2 linked regions of the Homo sapiens genome follow. The protein of the gene in region 1 interacts with the protein of each later gene in a pairwise test. Each region holds a gene or a part of one and is shown on either strand. Other genes may lie near its edges.

Evidence for each region. Proteins that work in one complex are often made in the same cells at the same time.
Region 2: the proteins of TTC14 (region 1) and NKAP interact in a two-hybrid assay, tested with the Homo sapiens proteins (one large-scale study listed by BioGRID and IntAct).

What each region holds. Positions count from the first base shown.
Region 1 is NC_000003.12:180,600,117-180,605,704, forward strand, and holds the start of TTC14 (tetratricopeptide repeat protein 14), read left to right. Parts: upstream 1-2,046; 5' UTR 2,047-2,145; coding exon 2,146-2,306; intron 2,307-2,774; coding exon 2,775-2,899; intron 2,900-3,007; coding exon 3,008-3,207; intron 3,208-4,108; coding exon 4,109-4,193; intron 4,194-4,361; coding exon 4,362-4,491; intron 4,492-4,735; coding exon 4,736-4,891; intron 4,892-5,588.
Region 2 is NC_000023.11:119,926,216-119,931,112, reverse strand, and holds part of NKAP (NF-kappa-B-activating protein), read left to right. Parts: intron 1-947; coding exon 948-1,097; intron 1,098-4,897. UniProt on the Homo sapiens protein: Acts as a transcriptional repressor. Plays a role as a transcriptional corepressor of the Notch-mediated signaling required for T-cell development. Also involved in the TNF and IL-1 induced NF-kappa-B activation.

The DNA.
Region 1 (5,588 bases):
TACGAAAAATATCACTCTTGATAAATGCTGTTTACCCCCTAAAAGGAGCTGCTTTCTATGTTCACGGCCATTTCAGATGTTCAAGGTATGAGGTGGGGGAGGGTTATCCTAGTGTTGGAATTAGGAAGAAGTATAGACAGATCCCATAGTGATAAAACCATGTGCTACTGAAGAATGGCCTCAGAAGGTGACATTCCCAGGCTAAGTAACACTATTTGGTGTCTGGTTCTCAGACACCGGTTTCTTAGTCCCTCCAAAAAATGAGGTCCTTGATCACAGATTGACTCTAACACAAATCACATACTTATCAAGATGTCTATAATAATTTTTAGTGGTCAGCTTTCCTTTTCAGTGACAGCACTCTTTCCTAAAAACAACCATTCTCTAGAGTTATGGCTTAAAACAAGTCAGTCTGTACCATTTATTAAAGTTGATATGCCTATAGAAGCTTGAAATTTATTTATTTATTTATTTATTGAGACGGAGTCTCCCTCCGGCGCCCAAGCTGGACTGCCGTGGCGCGATCTCAGTTCATTACAACCCCCGCCTCCGGAGTTCAAGAGATTCTCGTGCCTCAGCCTCCCGAGTAGCTGGGACTACAGGCATGAGCCACCACGCTCGGCTAATTTTTGTATTTTTAGTAGAGACGGGGTTAGGCCATGGTGGCCAAGCTGGTCTCTGAACTCCTGACCTCAAGTGATCCACCCTCGGCCTCCCAAAGTACTGGGATTACAGGTGTGAGCCACCGTGCCTAACCCAAATTTATCTTTTACAGTTGCATTCTTGTTTGTTGCATTTTCTCAAGTCTCAAACTGTTTACCTATTTGCCTGGGTTTTCCACAAAACAGTGTGGCAGTATCGATTATGTTCTGGGCTAGATCTCCTATACAAAAGTGGTAACACAGTGAAAGGCAAGTTGATTTCCTCAAAGACACATGGTGGGAAGTGGAGAGACTAACTGTCACCGTTTATTTCTGTTCAAGAGGACTATACTGAACTATTTACACTGAACATATTTAAATGGTACAAATTTTATACTGGAATAAAACGAAGCTACATGATCTCAAAATTAGGGTTAGTTAGACCTTCCATATGATAAAATACTCAATCCAGCAACTCTGCCTGAGAAGACCAATTAATACTTCGTTTGGAATCCTAACTCTAGCCTCTTACTAGCTGTGTGCCATTGAGCAATTTACTGGGACTCTCTGAGCATGTTTCCTCGTTTTCTAAAATGAAAAAGTACAATAGCTACCATAGTGGTTAGGTTCTCAAGTCAGTAAGTAAGGGGATGGGGGACCTAAGTTGAAATTCCCTTTGAAAATCACTTGAATTGTCCATAAGAACAGTATATTGACTTTTGCGTACATACCACTATACAGTAAGTCCCACAGACACTAAATTTTGAGCAACCATTGAGATAAACTAAATAAGAAATGCATGTGTTCATTAGTTATTGTAAAACTTGAATGGCATATGCACGTGTGGAGACATTAAAGCCATCCTGGTTTTAGAATTCACAATCACTAACAGTAAATGGGGTATGGATGGAGAACACCACTCCAGGTGCTTAACAAATGTCCGTGTCCTTCCTTTCTTCTGCCCTTAAAACCACCTGGAAACCTTCCCGGAGCAGCCGGTTGAATGGGGTTACGCCAGAGACACAGGTATTGATTTACGCAGAGAGTACGTCGAGGGAAGAAGCTTGGAGACTCGTATAGGGTTCTTACCCTGGCACTGGCACTTAGAAGCACCTTGATGAATACGAAAAGGAATTATTATTTACCCTAGGTTACAGCTCGAGCTATTTCGACGTAATAACGATCCCACGTACACTTTAAAAAGCAAACTTCTCACATACATCACTTCCTGGAAGCCCTAGTCAGCCTTTAGCCCAAGCAATGCTGAGCCCAATCCTTCGGCCTTCCGTAGTCTCGCTCGGTTTCGCGAGATCGAGGCTGAGCTCCGCCGCGCCGCCGTGGGGGCGACCCCAGAACACTTCCGGGTGTAACTGGTTGTGCTGTCTGTGTACTTCCGGCAGCCTCCAGACAGTTTCTTCCGCTTCCTGTACCACCCGGCTCAAGTAGCGGACACGGAACAGGGAACTATCAGCCCGTCGGCCTCCGGGCCCTGCATTCTCTAGCCATGGACCGGGACCTTTTGCGGCAGTCGCTAAATTGCCACGGGTCGTCTTTGCTCTCTCTACTTCGGAGCGAACAGCAGGACAATCCACACTTCCGTAGCCTCCTGGGGTCGGCCGCCGAGCCAGCCCGGGGCCCGCCGCCCCAGCACCCGTTGCAGGGCAGGTAATGAGACGTTGGTGCCACTGCGCCACGGAAGAGGGGACGCAGCTCTGGCAGCCACTACCGCAGCCCCGGGTTTGCGTCTAGAGGAAGTGGAGCCGCGGCCGTGAGCACAGGACGATCGCGCGCTGGTGTCTTGGGCTGGGTGGACGGGGGGCGCTCCTGGGTTGTGCAATGCGGGATGCGGGCTGAACTTTTTCTCTGGCACTGCTTGGTAGAGGCGCAGATTCCTTAGCTAAAAATCCCTTGAGCTTTCCTATCTGAGTTGGAGGCGTCACTTTTTAAGTTTCCCCGCTCTCCACCTCCAGGTTGGTTAATGAGGGAATGCCTAGTTAAAACTTTTTGTCTGAGGTTGTATTGTCTGCAGCTTAGGATGGAGCGGAATGGGCGATGAAAGCCATAAGCAGAAGGTTAGAAGTAAAGAGGCTTTGCAGATAACCCAATTTTCATATATATTTTTTTCTTTTTAAGAAAAGAGAAGAGAGTTGACAACATCGAGATACAGAAATTCATCTCCAAAAAAGCGGATCTGCTTTTTGCACTTTCCTGGAAATCAGATGCACCTGCAACTTCTGAAATTAATGAAGACAGTGAAGGTCAGTTTAGCCTTAAAATCTTTAAGATTGCGGTTCGGTTTAACAGTACTTCAGGTGAAACGGAACTCAAAACTATCGTTAGTGATTTTGTTAATTTTTTTTTTTTAGATCATTATGCAATCATGCCACCTTTAGAGCAATTCATGGAGATACCTAGTATGGATCGGAGAGAGCTGTTTTTCCGAGATATTGAGCGTGGTGATATAGTGATTGGAAGAATTAGTTCTATTCGGGAATTCGGTTTTTTCATGGTGTTGATCTGTTTAGGAAGTGGTATCATGAGAGATATAGCCCACTTAGAAATCACAGTAAGTTATTTTTGTTACTTGGATTGCTTCTGTTTTTGTTAACGCATCTCAATGCAAGAACTATATCTTTGCATGCAGTTGTGCTCAAGTATACCTGCCAAGATGCTTTTGGAAATTAAATGTTAATTGGAGAAAAATAGTTTAAAAAAATTAGTGTAAGTTACCCAGTTTCTCCCTCCATTTCTGGTTTTTGGGATTTTTTAAATTTAAACTGGTTGGCAGGCACAGTGTTCTTTTCTAAATGCTCAAAGAGGTATCAGTGGACGTGGTGAGGTTGATTGATATTCAGACTTATTTCTTGTAGTTGAACATATGTATTCTTAATTAGTTAATATTTGGCATTGTATATTTTCATGTGGATAATTTGGAGAGAAGTTTCATTTATATATTTACAATAATTAAATGTAAGTGGTTTGTACATTATATTAAGATACTTTGCCCAAGATGGATAGTCCTGAATTTAAACTAATGTGTCACGATAAAAGATTGGGTATTTGCCATCTATCCAGGCAGATAAAAAGGAAGAAAAGCAGAAGGTATTACAGATTGGATAACAGACAAAATACTTTGGAGAATTGGCATTTCATTTTCACTGGAATCCTTATACCTTTTAGACAAATTTTAGTTTGTTTTTGATGCATGTTGTATACTGTCATAAGCCATCATATTTGGTTCCTAAACTAATGGAAAGTTTCATGAGATTTTAGTTTTTTAACTGAACCAGCAAACATATTTTACTGTGTTTGGACACGGAAATTACTTTTAACTAAATCCTTATTTAAATTTTTACTTTAGGTTGTTCAACTACTAGCTGTTTCATACCAAACAACTAAGATAAAAGAAGACACTGTTCTTATCAAAGCTTGAAATGTCTGGTGTTTTAAAATACTTCTCATTACAGGCTCTTTGTCCCTTAAGAGATGTGCCTTCTCACAGTAACCATGGGGATCCTTTATCATATTACCAAACTGGTGACATCATTCGAGGTGATTAGTTTCATCATACTAATAAAAAAGTAATGATTGTTGAATTTTTGTTTTTATTAATTTAAAAAAATACAGTCTAAGAGGGTAGTGTTTGGGAAAGTTTATATTTTTTATGTTAGTTTACATTTTCTTACTAATCAGCTTAGTTCTCTTTTTTTTTTTCTTAAGCTGGAATCAAGGATATTGACAGATACCATGAAAAGCTAGCAGTATCTCTGTATAGCTCTTCTCTTCCACCACACCTATCTGGTATTAAATTAGGTGTAATTAGCTCTGAAGAGCTTCCTTTATACTACAGGTAATTTATCCGTATTATTTCAACAACAGTTCATTACAAAAGTCTCTTGGATTGAGGAATACCACATTTTTATAACGGTTAAATTACTTCAGACTTGGTAAAAGGAAACCATATCATAATATTGCCACACCATCTTATGCAAAAAATGGAATTAGTATTTAAACCTCAAATGATATTATTTCTTTACTAGAAATGGAATGTCAAATTAGTCATTTTACAATTTTTGTGTTTGTATTTTTTTAAGGAGAAGTGTTGAGCTAAATAGCAATTCTTTGGAGTCCTATGAAAATGTCATGCAGAGTTCCTTGGGATTTGTTAATCCAGGAGTAGTTGAATTCCTTCTAGAAAAACTAGGAATAGATGAATCTAATCCACCATCTTTAATGAGAGGCCTACAAAGGTATAGTACATCAGTATTACTCTTAGATGGTGAGGGGAGTGGCAGTAAGCTCAGAAGCTGCGTTTAGCTGAAGGACGTATTTTACCATCCTAAGCCACCTAGTAGCAGGCATATGCCAAAGGTTGAATGAACCAGGTGATCCCATCTTCTGGACTGGACTGTCTTATCAGTGATTAATATGTGTACCATGTAACCAAGTAGAGAAGGATGCAGAAACTTTTTATAAGAATTTTGTGTGTATGCTAAAGAAAAATACTGGGTTTTTTTGTTTTTTGTTTTTGTTTTTTGAGTCGGAGTCTCACTGTGTCACCCAGGCTGGAGTGCAGTGGCGCTATCTCAGCTCACTGCAAGCTCTGCCCCTGGGTTCACGCCATTCTCCTGCCTCAGCCTCCCAAGTAGCTGGGACTACAGGTGCCCGCCACCACGCCTGGCTAATTTTTTTTTCTTTGATTTTTAGTAGAGTTGGGGTTTCACCGTGTTAGCCAGGATGGTCTCAATCTCCTGACCTCGTGATCCACCCGCCTCGACCTCCCAAAGTGTTGGGATTACAGGCGTGAGCCACCGCACCTGGCCAAGAAAAATACTGTTTAACAATAATAATCATTTCGAAAGTTCAAAGATTTTGGTATGTAAATAGAATGCAGATTTCTTGCTTGGGATTCATACTTTCACTGTCGAGTGCCTGTCAAGCAGAGTT
Region 2 (4,897 bases), on another chromosome or scaffold:
TGGAGTGCAGTGGCATGATCTTGGCTCACTGCAACCTCCACCTCCCAGATTCAAGTGATTCTCCTGCCTCAGCCTCCCAAGTAGCCAGGATTACAGGCGCCTGCCGCCACGCCCGGACTAATTTTTGTATTTTTAGTAGAGCTGGGGTTTCGCCATGTTGGCCAGTATGGTCTCGAACTCCTGATCTCAAGTGATCTGCCCGCCTCAACCTCCAAAAATGCTGAGATTACAGGCGTCAGCCACTGCACCCAGCCTACTTTGTTTTTTTTTTTTGTTTTGTTTTGTTTTGTTTTTTGAGACAAAGCCTTACTCTGTCGCCCAGGCTGGAGTGCAGTGACACGATCTCGGCTCACTGCAACCTCTGCCTCCCAGGTTCAAGTGATTCTCCTGCCTCAGCCTCCTGAGTAGCTGGGACTACAAGCATGCACCACCATGCCCGGCTAATTTTGTATTTTTAGTAGAGACGGGGTTTCGCTATGTTGGCCAGGCTGCTCTCAAGCTCCTGATCTCAGGTGATCCTCCCGCCTCAGCCTCCCAAAGTGTTCAGATTGTAGGCGTGAGCCACTGTGCCTGGCATACTTTGGATTTTTTAAGGGAAAAAGGGAAAGGGAATCAGCTGGAGCCAGAACCAGTAATGACAATACCTGTAGGGATAAATTAATCCATAATTGTAAACTGTGAATCTATACTCACAGCAGTTCTTTTCTTTCAAAATATTTCTGCATTTCTGGGTTAGTTGTATAGGTCATAGTGCAATGCAATGTTTAATACACTAATTAGGATAAAGCAATTCACATTGAGCTTCCTAGCACACTACTGCTGAGCACTGTTATTCCTACTCTTGTTTGAGAGAAAATGTGGGGATTTTTGGTGCTCTCTTTAGATTATAAGCTTTTAATATTAAGATGATTTAATGGACCTTTTCTGAATTCTGAATTACTTTGTAGCTATGGCCATGCTCTGTTACCTGGTGAAGGTGCAGCTATGGCTGAATATGTAAAAGCTGGAAAACGTATCCCACGAAGAGGTGAAATTGGCTTGACAAGTGAAGAAATTGCATCATTTGAATGCTCAGGTTATGTAATGAGTGGTAGCAGGTATGTTGTTGGCATTAAGCTCAGTTTCCATGATTAGATCTTTTTCTTCTTTTTTACTACCAGAATTATATTTTGGTAATTGATTTTCATTAAGTGACTGTTTCTTATGAAAAGTAGAGTATAAATATTGGTTTGATATTAGTGTTGTTAGTATAACATGGTTTTCTGCAATTCCAAGTATATATGCAACTCAGCCTCAAACTCAGCTATATCTCTGACTTCAAAGAATCAATCTTCCTAATGTCCTTTCCTAGTTGGTATTTGCTTACAGATATTTTATCCACTGGAGGATATAGTTAAATTCAGCTATTTATCACTGCCCCATGAGGAATGTGGCAGTTAGGAAAATATTTTCACAAGACAGTGTTTCCTGGTTACAAGTTTGTCTTCAGTTTTTTATGGACCCAGATTTCTGAGACTGAATAACAGAAAAAGATGATAAAAGACATTGGTCAGCTGAGAATATATCCTGGCTAATAAATAAATGAATAAATAAATAAATTTTAAAAAGACACTGGATTCAGCATGGGAAATGAATATAAAATTAGGAAAGAGAAAAGTTCCAGGAAGAACCAGGAGAATGAGCAAATAGGGCAGCAGTACTTAGATCAAATTGAATTTTGGATTCTTTAAAACTTGATAAACTTTTTTTTTAAGTAGATAACTATTTTTAAATGACACTGAAGGCAAATATTTGCAGAAACCCTGAAGCACCTCCAGAATCTTGTAATACTGAGGACCAATATTTGAAGCATTGCATTGGAGGACCCACACAGTAAGGCAAGAAAAAGAAATTAGAGACACAAGGATTGGAAAGGAAGGCTGGGCACGGTGGCTCATGCCTGTAATCCCAGCACTTTGGGAGGCCAAGGCAGGCAGATCACTTGAGTCCAGGAGTTCAAGACTAGCCTGGGCAACATGGCGAAACCCTTCTCTACTAAAAACACAAAAATTAGCCAGACGTGGTGGTACACACCTGTAATCCCAGCTACTCAGGAGGCTGAAGCAGGAGAATCGCATGAACCCAGGAGGCGGAGGTTGCAATGAGCCAAGATCACACCACTGCATGCCAGCCTGGAGAGCAAAACTCAGCCTGAAAAAACAGTAATAATAATAATAAGGATTGGAAAGGGCGATATAACAATGTCATTTTTTAGCCAGGCGTGGTGGCTCACGCCTGTAATCCCAGCACTTTGGGAGGCATAGTTGGGTGGATCACCTGAGGTCAGGAGTTCAAGACCAGCCTGGCCAACATGGTGAAACCCTGTCTTTACCAAAAATACAAAAATTAGCTGGGCATGGTGGCGGACACCTGTAGTCCCAGCTCCTCAGGAGGCTGAGGCAGGAGAATCACCTGAATCCAGGAGGAGGTTACAGTGAGCCAAGATCGTGCCATTGCACTCCAGCCTGGGTGACAAGAGTGAAACTCCGTCTTAAAAAAAAAATGTCATTTTTTTGTGAATGACATGGTGAATGATTTGATTGTTTACATAGAAAATCCCAAAGAATCTCCAGATAAATTATAAATGAGAGGAGGGTTTAACAACTGGTTGGATATAAGGTTAGTACACAAAAATCCATTGCATTTCTATTTACCAGCAACAGACAACTAGAAAATGTAACTAAATAAGAAGAAAACATTTGTAATAGTATCAGAGAATATGAAGGACTTCAGAATAAATCTTAACAAAAGATGCCCAGGGCTCTGTGAGGAAAACTATAAAACATTATTAAGAGATTGTGTATTCAATACAGTTCCAATAAAAATGAACTGCATTTCTATTTACTAACAACAGAAACCTAGAACCTTGAACGTTTATAACAGTGTCAGAATATGAGAGACTTAAGAATAAATCTTAACAAAAGATGCCCAAGGTTCTATGGGGAAAAATGTAAGACATTAAGAGTCCATATCTTCAATATAGTTCCAATCAAAATCACAACACAGTTGTTTATGAGACTTATTAAGCTGGTTCTAAAATTTATATATTACACTAAAAGGACAAGAATAGCCAGGTCACTTCTGAAGAAGAAGAGCAAGAAGGTAAGATTAAAGAAAACTTAAATAGCTGGAGAGATACCAGGTTCACGGATAGGAAGGCAATATTGTAAAGTTGTCATTTCTTCCCAAATTGATCTTTATATTCAATACAGTCCCAATCAAAATCAGAACACAGTTTTTCATGAAACTTAATAAGCCAGTTCTAAAATTTATATACTAGACTAAAAGGACAAGAATAGCCAAGTCACTCCTGAAAAAGAAGAGCAGGAAGGTAAGATTTCCCCTACAAATAGGAGGACTTATTATGAAGCTTACAGCACTTTAGAAAGCATAGGAGAACAACTGAATTGTTCAGTGGAATAAAATTCAGGCCGGGCGTGGTGGCTCATGCCTGTAATCCCAGCACTTTGGGAGGCTGAGGCGGGTGGATCACCTGAGGTCAGGAGTTCAAGACCAGCCTGGCCAACATGGTGAAACCCCATCTCTACCAAAAATACAAAAATTAGCTGGGCGTGGTGGCTAGTGCCTGTAGTCCCAGCTACTTGGGAGGCTGAGGCAGGAGAATCGCTTGAACCCATGAGGTGGAGGTTGTAGTGAGCTGAGACCTCGCCATTGTACTCTAGTCTGGGCAACAAGAGCAAAACACTATCTCAAAAAAAAATAAAATAAAATTCAGAGCCCAAAGATAACCATACACGTATGGAACTTCAGTGTATGAAAGAGATAGCATGTCAGATCAATGGGGAAAGAAAGAACTATTCAGTACATGAAATAGGAGGCTGAGGCAGGAGAATCGGTTGAACCTGGGAGGCGGAGGTTGCAATAAGCCGAGATTATGCCACTGCACTCCAGCCTGGGTGACAGAGGGAGACTTGGAAGTTAAATCCACTGATAAAAACTGCTGTTCAATTACAGATTTAGACTTGGTTCTTTTTTTTTTTTTTTTTTTTTTGAGACCTAGTTTCACTCTTGTCTCCCAGGCTGGAGTACAGTGGCGCAATCTCAGCTCACTGCAACCTCCACCTCCTGGGTTCAAATGATTCTCCTGCCTCAGCCTCCCAAGTAGCTGGGATTACGGGTGCCCACCACCACACCCAGCTAATTTTTGTATTTTTAGCAGAGACGAGGTTTCACCACGTTGGCCAGGCTGGTCTTAAACTCCTGACCTCAGGTGACCTGCCTGCCTCAGCCTCCAAAAGTGCTGAGATTACAGGCGTGAGCCACCATGCCCAGCCTAGACTTGGTTCTTTTGGTTTTATGGTAAAGTAGAACCTTGAAGGAAGTTCCATCTGATTAATGACTAGTTAAATGTTTTATCTATCCTACTTCCAATTCCACAAAGGCAAATGGATATGTCACCTAGGAAGTTTAATAATTTGCCCATTTCTGATTGTTTTACTGGAAACAAATTAGACGTATACCCTTAGTATTTGAAATTAATGATAGCGGCCAGGCATGGTGGCTCACACCTGTAATCCCAGCACTTTGGGAGGCCAAGGCAGGTGGATCACCTGAGGTCAGGAGTTCGAAACCAGCATGGCCAACATGGCGAAACCCCATCTCTACTAAAAATACAAAAATTAGTCGGGCGTGGTGGCACACACCTGTACTCCCGGCTACTCGGGAGGCTGAGGCAGGGGAATCACTTGAGCCCAGGAGGCAGAGGTCGCAGTGAGCCAAGATTGTGCCACTGCACTCCAGCCTTGGTGACAGAGCCAGACTTTAAGACTCACAAAAAGGAGAAAAGAAAAAAGGATAGGCCAGGCGCGGTGGCTCACGCCTGTAATCCCAGCACTTT